Linked DNA regions of Homo sapiens: all the other regions are reported to be linked to region 1. The links are microRNA targets in miRTarBase. Many come from high-throughput screens and were not tested one by one. Region 1 holds a microRNA gene; each other region holds the end of a gene's coding sequence.
What was found. The annotated mature microRNA hsa-miR-1257 reads AGUGAAUGAUGGGUUCUGACC and lies in region 1 at 1,139-1,159, shown strand. An mRNA with a match to its seed (bases 2 to 7 or 8) in the 3' UTR can be bound and repressed. Matches are read on the target gene's strand: a 7mer-m8 pairs with bases 2 to 8, a 7mer-A1 pairs with bases 2 to 7 and ends in A, and an 8mer does both.

Region 1 (3,348 bases):
ACGTGGGCAGCAGATGCAGGAGACAAGGAGACACGGGACACCTGGGGGTAGGTTTGGGATGGGCAGGTGGAGAATCCGTCTTAGTTGGTGGTAATGGAATGGTTTTAGTAGGTGGAAGTTACAAAGAAGCTTGTTTTGGTTTACCATGGAGTACAAGGGTACCATGGGGAGCCGAGCTGTCCAAATACAGAACTGGCTCTTTGCAGGCTGTCTGGTTGAGTGTGTGTTGGGGATGTTGCTGAGAGGATCTTGTCCTGCTGAGGGCTAGATAGGGCTCTTGAACGGTCCAAGTCAGCTTCCCATGAGGGGTCCCAGGGCCCCACAGCATCCGAGACTGAACCTGACAGGCCCACGGAAGGGCTGGTAGCTAACAGTCAGCACCCCAGCTGCAGTGGGACCCCTTGGCCTCCCTCCTGGGCTCCAGCTCCAGGCCTGGAAGGGCTGAACAGGCGGATGCAGTCCCAGCTGACAGGAAGTCTGAGGAGCAGCTTGTAATGAGCTTCGTTGGCTGACAGGTTTTTTTTTTATTAAAAAAATTTGTTTTTTTTGAGACAGAGTCTCGCTCTGTCACCAGGCTGGAGTGCAGTGGCATGATCTTGACTTGCTGCAAACTCTGCCTCCTGGGTTCAAGCAATTCTCCTGCCTCAGCCTCCTGAGTACCTGGTATTACAGGCATGCACCACCACCTGGCTGATTTTTGTATTTTTAGTAGAGACGGGGTTTCGCCACGATGGCCAGGCCAGTCTCAAACTCCCGACCTCGGGTGATCCTCCCGCCTCAGCCTCCCAAAGTACTGGGATTACAGGCGTGAACCACCGCGCCCAGCTGGCTGACAGTTTTATGTTACCACGAGTGCAGCTCCTTGTCAGGGCAGGTCTGTGATTGTGCTACGGCTCATTAACGAGATTGCAAATCATGCGTCTCTCCTGTGTGTGCCCACTCCCCCTGCAGGCCTCCGTGGCACTCAGTAAGCAGCGGGCTCAGGGAGAGCGTCCTGGATGGTCACCATGCAGGTAAGATGAGGAGGACACTTGGAACCAGGCATTGGATGCGAGCCCCACCCCATGGGAGGGGGACGGGGGGATGCTGGGCACCAGGGGGACCTGTGGGCCAGCTGGCCCTGGGCTTGTGCTTGGGGAGTGAATGATGGGTTCTGACCCCCATGCACCCCTGTGGGCCCCTGGCATCACTGGCCCCATCCTTCACCCCTGCCAACCACGCTTGCCCTGTGCCTCTGAAGCTCCCCCACTAAGGGGGTGGAGTCTAATTCCCTGCCCCTTGACTGTGGGTTCAGCCATGTGACTTGCTTTGACTGAGGGGATGTTCACGGGGCATGTGGTGCTCTGAACTGAGAGCTGCGGTGACCAGGCTGCTGTCCTGTGTTGCTGCCATCAGTGAGGGTGGCTAGCCTGCTGGTCAGGGGGAGGATGAGGGAGTGGGGGGCAGAGCTCAGCTGCCCCAGCGGCCTGGCCTGGACCAGCCAACCAAATGCTGACTCTGTGCTGCTGAGATCGTGTTTGTGTTTGTTACTCAGCAACTAGCTGATACACGGTCCCAGCAACAGACAAGGAAGCCCAGAGGTAGCTAAGTGACACTCCCAAGGCTACACAGCATCTCCTACTGGGAGCTGTGTAAGAAATGACCCCCCCCAAACCCTCCATCCTGGCAGCTGAGGGATGAAGGAGAGACCCAGTCCTCCTGTTGTCCACCTCCTCAATATCTAGGTGGGACCCCTACAATATCTTGATTTTTTAATGTTGACAATTGTGGTCAGCTGAAAAATCCCCCCCCCCCCACCCCCACCGCCCTAAAAGAAAAACAGCCCGTGAAGGTGACCTTATTTGGAAATAGAGTCTCTGCAGATATGATCAAGTTGAAGGTCTCAAGATGAGATCTTTCAGGACTAGTCATAGGCCCGAAATCCAATGGGAAGTGTCCATATGTAAGAGGGAGATGGAGGGAGGTTACACTAAGATGAAGTGAAGATGGAGGTGGAGACGGGAGTGATGTGGGCGTGAGCCAAGGAACTGGAGGCTGGAAGAGGCAGTGAGGGCTCGTCCCCTAATTCCCCGGAGGGAGCTCAGCCTTGCCGACCCCTTGATTTCGGCCCAGGGATACTGATCTCAGACTTTTGGCCTCCAGGACTGGGAGAGCATAAATGTCTTTCTTTTAAGCCACCGAGTTTGTGGGACTTTGTTACCTCAGGAAACAAATACAACAGTATATTCAACACTGTGAAGTGTGCTGTGCCAGGTGGACCGTGCCTGAGGCTGGGCCGGCCTGTGGTCTGCAGCATTGACCCCTTCTGAGCCCCCTGAGGGAGCCCCTGCCTGCCCCAGGCCAGGGTCTCAGTGCATCCGGCTGTCTCTGCCGAGGCCGCAGACCCTCCCTCTTGCACCTCCGTGTGCTTGAGATGAAGAGCCGGCGCTGTGTCCTCAGGCTGCTGAGGGGTAGCCCTTGGGTGGCTGGCCGTGGTCTCAGGGGCAGGAACGGCACAGGGGGCTGAGCAGGGATTTCAGGTGCTGTCCCTGCCCGACCCTCCCAGTTGGCCCAGCTGACTTCCCCTGCCTGGCTCAGCAGCGAGGGGCCCAGCAGCAGGGAGGTCAGTACCTTGGACAGCGTCCTGCAGCCCCCTGTGAGCCGAGGAGGGCTGTGTGTGTGTGCGTGTGTGTGTGTTTGCACGTGTGCATGTGTGTGCATGTGCACATGTGTGAGTGAGTGGGGGGTGCAGGGTCCCGCAGCTGGCTGGGCCATGCCTCTTTTGTCTGCCCTGCGGGTGGGTCTGTCAATACCTGGCTGAGTGGCCAGTGCCGTGGATGAGTGGCTCTGCCCAGCATAGGCCTGTGAACTGACCTCTCTGAATCCTCCTGGGACAGAGGAGTGACAGCGACCCCCATCCTGGGAAATGACCCAAGAGAAGGCCTCTGGGGCTCCCTGGAAAGGGCCTCAAGCTGGATTTTTCAGGTCGTTTGCCAGGCCCTGACCTCTAGGCCTGTAAGCTCCCCACTTGAAGCTGGGAGGGGGGTGCTTCGCAGATCACCTGACCCTCACCCCCACCACAGGGCCTCACCCTGGGAGTCTGATTACAAGGAGTGTCCCCCCACCAGGACTCCGGTCCCAGGCCTACAGCAGTTGCCTAATTGTGAATGTAATTAACTGCTCGCACCCTCAAAATTAGCAAGTGGTTAATTGTGCCTGTAATTATCAACTGCACCCATGATTAACCGTGTGAGTGGTTTTTTTTTTTTTTTTGAGACGGAGTCTCGCTCTGTCGCCCAGGCTGGAGTGCAGTGGCGGGACCTCGGCTCACTGCAAGCTCCGCCTCCCGGGTTCACGCCATTCTCCTGC
Region 2 (3,000 bases), not on the chromosome of region 1:
AAAACAGGCAAAACAATCTTCTAATTTTGTAACACTGGTGATTCCCCCCCTCTTCTGGGCAGAATCGGAGGTATAGAAAGGAATCTGAATTCTCCAGGGCAAAAAACACCCAATTAACACCCACCAGGATTCTGTTACTGAGACACTGGCATTACAATGCTGTTATGACAGGCAGTACGTGTTCCTCTCTCAGTGAGAAAAAGGGTATTAATTCGACTGGGCCATAGGAATGTGGCAAAAGTTTTTATACAACTGAAACAGTGGTTTCCCCGAGGCTTAGAAAAGCAAAGGAAAAACTGGAAGGGTCTGGCTGACCATTTTGCCATGTTTTCTCAGGTAAGAGTTGAAGACATTTGCAAGAATGCAACATCAAGACAAGCTTTAACTATACTCTGTTGATTGATACAAAATAGGATGAAAAACCATTGGATATTGGGACACGAGGAACTTGTTTAGCACAACCGATGTCATGTATACCACAGTTTTAACCATTAGGCCATTTCCACTGTAGCTTAGAAAAAAGAACCAGAGGACTGCCTTGGTAGAGCTGGATGCGCTGCTACAAGATGGCCTCACTGTACAGCCCTCAAACGTGAGGACTTCTTTCTCCATAGACACCAGATGGCCAATCAGTACTTTCTAGAGTTCTTTAACTACTTCAGAATGCAAGAACAGTACATACATACTCCAACAGCCATTGAAAGATTCACATTCATGGGAAAACACAAGTCTTGATGAAATCTTGACTTAAGCTCTCTTTTAAGAAACTGGTTGAAACTGGTGAAAAGTTCATTATGATTTGGACTTGATACCTGCCTCGGGCCAGAAGACCTACGTTGCATCAATTCTGAGTCAGTTGGAAGCTACGGAATTGTTGCTGACTCTACACATTTGAGTTTACAGAGCAGAGCCCGTCCCCTCCCTTCAAAGAGAAGGCAAATAAAGCACTCAAGAGATACTGGTCTCATTGACTATTTTCAACATAAAATGATTAATCAGGTTGGAAGCAAAAACATTACTGCTGCTTCTCAACCAGAGGATTAAGTGATCACACAGGACCCTTCTGCAGAGTGCAGGTTTTCTACCTGACGGTGAAGAAAGGAGGGAAGGACACTTCTTCTGCCCAAGGTCAACACACAAAATATTTGGTTTGAGATTTAAGACAGAAGGCACTTTTAACATTCTGATATCAGATGTTAACCATACAAACATCCTGTCACAATTTCATTTGGGTGTACTCAAATCCCCTTACAAAAGTCTTCTTACTGCATGTGTGTCATTATGAGAGCAGTGGCGACATGAGCAGATTTAGCCTTGAGATGTGTCTACCTGTTGCTATTCTCCCGATGAAGCAAACTGGGCAGCATGTCAGCCCTGAAGGTTACAAATCCAGTATTTGACTGCAAAACAATTAAATTAGACATCTGAGTGGTTAGTGCAGAAAGAAACAATTAGCAAGAACACTGGCTCCCACTCCGGAGCGATGGGGCTTGGACTGGTCTTTTCCATCATAATACTCTTTGCTTGACTGGCACCAACGTTAAGGAAAAATATCTGCATGAAAATTCAACTAGTGGAAGAAACTTTACCTAAAAATGCCATGTTTATATTTCCAGCTTTTCTCCAAAGAAAAATACCCATTTTCCCATCCTTAGTGTCTGAAGGCCTTGGACTTGAAGGTCTGGCCACATGACTCATTCTGTAAGGTTAACAACTGGCCCAGTTTTATGACTGAACACAAACTGGACTTGAACGTTCCAATTCAATTTTTTCCTTTCAGAAGAGGGAGATGAAAGGGAACCGACCACCCTATTATTATTTTTTTTGCCCTATTATTTGCTGCAACCACGGCTGCCAGTACTTTTCACAAGATGCTGTGTATAGGCTATTTTCACTATCTCCTCAGTCAACGCTGAGCTGACAGTTCTTCAGTGCTACACTCCAACTAAACTGTACAGTAAGTTCTGCAGAAATGGATCTAATATTTCTACCTTTATTTACAAATATCACAAATGGATTCTAGTTGAATCTACATGTTTAAATCCATCGGCTAAAAACATATTACATATTGTAAACATGGCAATATTTAATACAGTATCTATTCTAGAATATTTTCATGTCATGATCACATTTGTTATACCTGAAATTGAATTTATACACATTAAAGAATTACTAGCAATGGTTGCTCACTTTACAATTGAGGGCAGGGGGCTAGGGCTACATTTTATCATTTCAGAAACACTTCAAAGTAAAGTTAAAGCTTGTCTTTGATTGGCTCGGCGTATCCTTTTTGTATCCATATTTAAAATGAAGACTGACACAGAAAATAGCGAGGGCCCCTTCTAATTTACCGGATTTTTAAAAATCAGTTTGAGATTCTTAGGGAAAGTGTCTGTTGTGAATAATAATAATAATAATAATAATAAAAACCTGCTGCAAAATAAACTGAATGGAAAGGGGCTTGAGACTGTTAGGGTGGAGTCTGTCGGGCGTCAGTCCTGCTTGGGTTGCAGCTGCCGCTTCCAGGCCTCGTTCAAGTAAACTAGTCGTTTGTAGTTGATAATGAGAAGAAGGAAGTTCAGCACGTACGTGACGATGCAGATGATGCAGAACTCCTTCAGCACAAAGTACAGAATGTAGGCCAGGTACAGGGACCCCACGACCGACATGATGGAGGACGTCATGAGGATCAAAGCCGCCACAGCGCTTGCTGTCATGCCTGTAAGAGAAGAGACGCAGGCTCAGTCAGGCCTTGGTGCTGGAGAGAGGCTTTCTGAGTGACAAGGAATAACACTGTGTGACTTGCTGCAGTGTTTGAATACTGATCTTCCTGCCAACTCTGAAAATTGAGAACAGAAATACTGCTCTGTTTTGTTAAAATTATACAGGTTGACTCTGCAGTTGATAATGCCAGGTTTTGGGGTTTTTGAGATGGAGTCTCACTCTACCGCCCAGGCTGGAGTGCAGTGGCACAATCTCAACTCATGCAACCTCTACCTC
Region 3 (3,348 bases), not on the chromosome of region 1:
CTGGGAGATGCCTACTGCAAGGGTGGAGGTGGAAAACAAAGGCTGTGTGAGACGGGCACGGGGCTAAAGAGGAGGTAGCCATCCAAAGCAGCGATGACTCAGCTTTCAATGTGGGGAGTGTGAGAGCAGAACGAAAGGGCCACTCATAGCATGGAAACCTGCCTGGATGAATGGGCTCCACTCACTGAGAATCAGAACCCAGAAGGAAGCATCCCAGATTTCCAGCACGGGCACAGAACAGAACAGTTCCCATTAGGGCAATCTAGGCACGTTCCAGTCTACAAGGTTGGTGGGGAGGCAGGGAGAGAAGGGTTTGATAAGGATCATCTCCAATAATGGGTTAGGAGAACAACTTAAAAGCTTTGTTCATCACCTCCACAGAGAAAGGGTAATTGAAGGCACATTGATATATAACCAGGTGAAGAAAATAATGGTTTAAGGTAACAGGATCTTCTATTCCAAGAAGTTATTTTTCCGCCCTTTTGATCCTTTAAAATACTTTTGTAAAATTAGAGGGCAGTGTTAATGCTGCATTTAGAGACAGCTCTTGTAATACTAACATTTTGAACAGTCTGATACCTTCCCAAGCTCACTGTGGAGTAAACTGTCTACATAATTTAGCCTGTCTTTGTGTGGGTTTTTTTTTTTTACTTATTTATTAACTTATGAAGATAATATTCTAATACCAACATTAAAGTGTTTAAAATAATTAGCAAGCAAGATACGTTTCTGATGTTCCATTTGTCACCCTTACCTCTTCCCAGAAAATGTTCTCAGGCCAAGTTCAAGATGAACAGGTTGAACTTTTAGGAGGGTTGACTTTTGGTAATAGATAAAGCTTTTTGGGAAGGAGAAAGGTAATCACAAATAAGATTGAAATTGGCTTAAGTTTTAGGTGCACAAAAATATTCAACATGCCAGAGCATGGTTTAAAAAATATCAAATGGGTCAAATGAACTAGGAAATATTCTGCTACATCAAGAAAATATTTCATCTTAAAATACACATTTTTCTTTTTACCAGAAAATACTCTTAAAATAAATTGCCACCCTGGGGGCAGCCCATAGCAAAACTCATTTGAAATGTGTTCTGCATATAAGAGCTCATTACAAATCAAGGTTTGGCAAGGAAAACATTTCTTATAAACAAAATTTTAATTGAGTTTTTCTTCTCAATTATTTTTAAGTGCACGGAAACAAAGCACTAAAATGAGTGTCACGCTCATGAGAAATTTCTTTAGTTTTCTCTAAAATGCCTTTTTCTTTTAGATGAGGAAGGTGAGTTTCCTAAAAATTTTTTCCAACAAATCTTTTAAATTTAGGATTAGATCACCAAATTCCTAGCAAAACAGAAAAAGGGATCTTTTGCTTTACAGAAAAAAATAATCATTATAAATTGACACACATTCTAAACTTTTTTAGAAAATACTAATGCCAAATGTCAAACTGTTGCCTTGGTACAAGACTGATATGAAATATAAGAATGTCTTTAAAATTGGCAAAATGGGATGCTCCTGTAACAGCCAACCACGGGAGCATAAAATTCAAATTATAAATTGTCTTTGTTTCGTTTAAAGATAGTGCCATGTCCTCCTGATGGGGTAACCCTGACTTAAATGAATCTTCTTACCTAAGTTTAATTAAATCGGCCCTTAATTTTCTCCCAAGTGCATAATGATAGCTCTGTCACGTCCCTGTGTGAGCTGCCATTATGTGTGTGGAGCAAAGTGTCCGTTGTGAGTGCAAGAAGCTGTGCAGGCTCTCCTGGGGAGGGGAGTGAGATGCTTTGTATGAAGCGCGTGCCTGCCTGAGTGAGCCCCATGTAGCGTCAGTCCCATTAGCACGCACGCACCTGTGACACGCCGGACCCCGACTGGGGAAAAGCAGTCTGTCTGGAAGTTCACTGCAATGGGGAGTCAATTTTTGTGAATAACTACCTTAATATTCACTAATAGCTTTTAGGCTCCTAATCTCTTATTGAATATTTTTTTTCCATAATTGCTACTTTTCAAAAGGGTTGCCAAAGTAGGCATTTCTATTCTCTGAAAAATGCAGAAGAGAACATAATGTTTTATATTCATCTGTGATGTGTTTATGCTAATGTCGCATCTCTGGAATACGGCGACTGTGGGCCTTCCTGCCATCATGATTCATTCTCCTTTGAAAGGAACTGTTAACGCTGGCAGTGTGAATTTTTTTTTTTCTTCTTTAAAAAAAAATCTCTCTTTGCGTCATGGTTTTACCATTATTTAAAGTATATGGAAAAATAGATTACAGAGGAAATCATTTTGAAATGTTGAAAATCTCTGCTTTCTAGTTTCATTCATTGACCTGTTTATTTTTTCCTATAAAATCCATCCAGAAGCCCACTGTATTATAGAGTAATTGACTTCAATTGTTTGAGATACTGTTAACCCAAGAATGAAGTTTTCAGTAATGTAATTTGTAATCTGGCCTTTATCATCTACTTGCCTTTCTGAGAATTAGCATATTTTTAAGTAAAGCCAGTTCTTCGATCATCCTCAGTAAAATAAGAGTATCTAGGCTCCCTAGATTGGGAGGTCCAAACAAATCCATCTGTGCAGCATTTGCTTAATGTGTAAGGAACCAGAGGACTCTGGGAATAACCACGACAAAACAGAAGGAACCACTGAAAGGGAGTCCAAAATGAGCACCATGACATCTCTTAGCACAGTCTAGGAAGTCTTAGCCCCCTAGGAAGTTTCTCTTGGCCACGTGTTGGTGAATTTCGCATTCTCTAGCTATACTTCACGCAGACCTGGCACCGGCTGATTTTCTGGCGTTGGGCCTGGCTTTCTTTTAAGGTGTCTGGTGCTGGAGCAGAGGAAAACTGCAAGTCTGCTTTCACCGTTGTGAGCCAGAAGCTATACTTATTTGCGAAAAAGTGGCAAGTTCCCTGCCGGCCCTGGCATTCAAGGAATGGTGCTGCTCTGAAATCTTCCAGGCAGCTGCCAGGTGACATAAGGGCCTGCCCTCCTCCTTGGTCCCCAGCTCCTGTGTGCTACCCAGAAAACAAGAGAGAATTAGGGCTCAGACACACACAGACAACCCCAGACCCAATCAGGGACACACCCAGGTTTGGGTCTGATCTTAACATTTTTCCTTAGATTATTCCATAAAGAACAAAATACAAGCGCTGAAAAGGAGTCGTACTCAGCATGGTAAGTATGCACACAAATTGGCTCCAGTTTCACCGATGGCTGAAGCAAACTCATCTTCTAAATTCTACCAATGTGATCAAAATCAATCACAAGTGTTTTTAAAAGATAATGGCCCTGCATCCCAACAGGCTATGGTTTGCAACAGTCCCCGTAACCTTATGTCCTAA

Region 2: the mRNA of VKORC1L1 is a reported target of hsa-miR-1257. Seed matches in the 3' UTR shown: 7mer-A1 at 2,397-2,403.
Region 3: miRTarBase lists COL4A4 as a target of hsa-miR-1257. Seed matches in the 3' UTR shown: 7mer-A1 at 2,186-2,192 and 7mer-A1 at 1,924-1,930.

The regions. Positions count from the first base shown.
Region 1 is chr20:61,951,432-61,954,779 of GRCh38, reverse strand. It overlaps MIR1257 (microRNA 1257), which reads left to right and starts at 1,118; the gene lies at 1,118-1,234. RefSeq lists enhancers at 610-1,109, 1,920-2,492 and a silencer at 2,480-2,680.
Region 2 is chr7:65,953,793-65,956,792 of GRCh38, reverse strand. VKORC1L1 (vitamin K epoxide reductase complex subunit 1L1) reads right to left here. Exons shown (of 3, transcript NM_173517.6): 3 at 1-2,719. The coding sequence ends at 2,493. Among named protein-coding and RNA genes, the nearest start is that of GUSB, 27 kb to the left of the region's middle.
Region 3 is chr2:227,004,568-227,007,915 of GRCh38, forward strand. COL4A4 (collagen type IV alpha 4 chain) reads right to left here. Exons shown (of 48, transcript NM_000092.5): 48 at 1-3,021. The coding sequence ends at 2,758. Among named protein-coding and RNA genes, the nearest start is that of COL4A4, 160 kb to the right of the region's middle.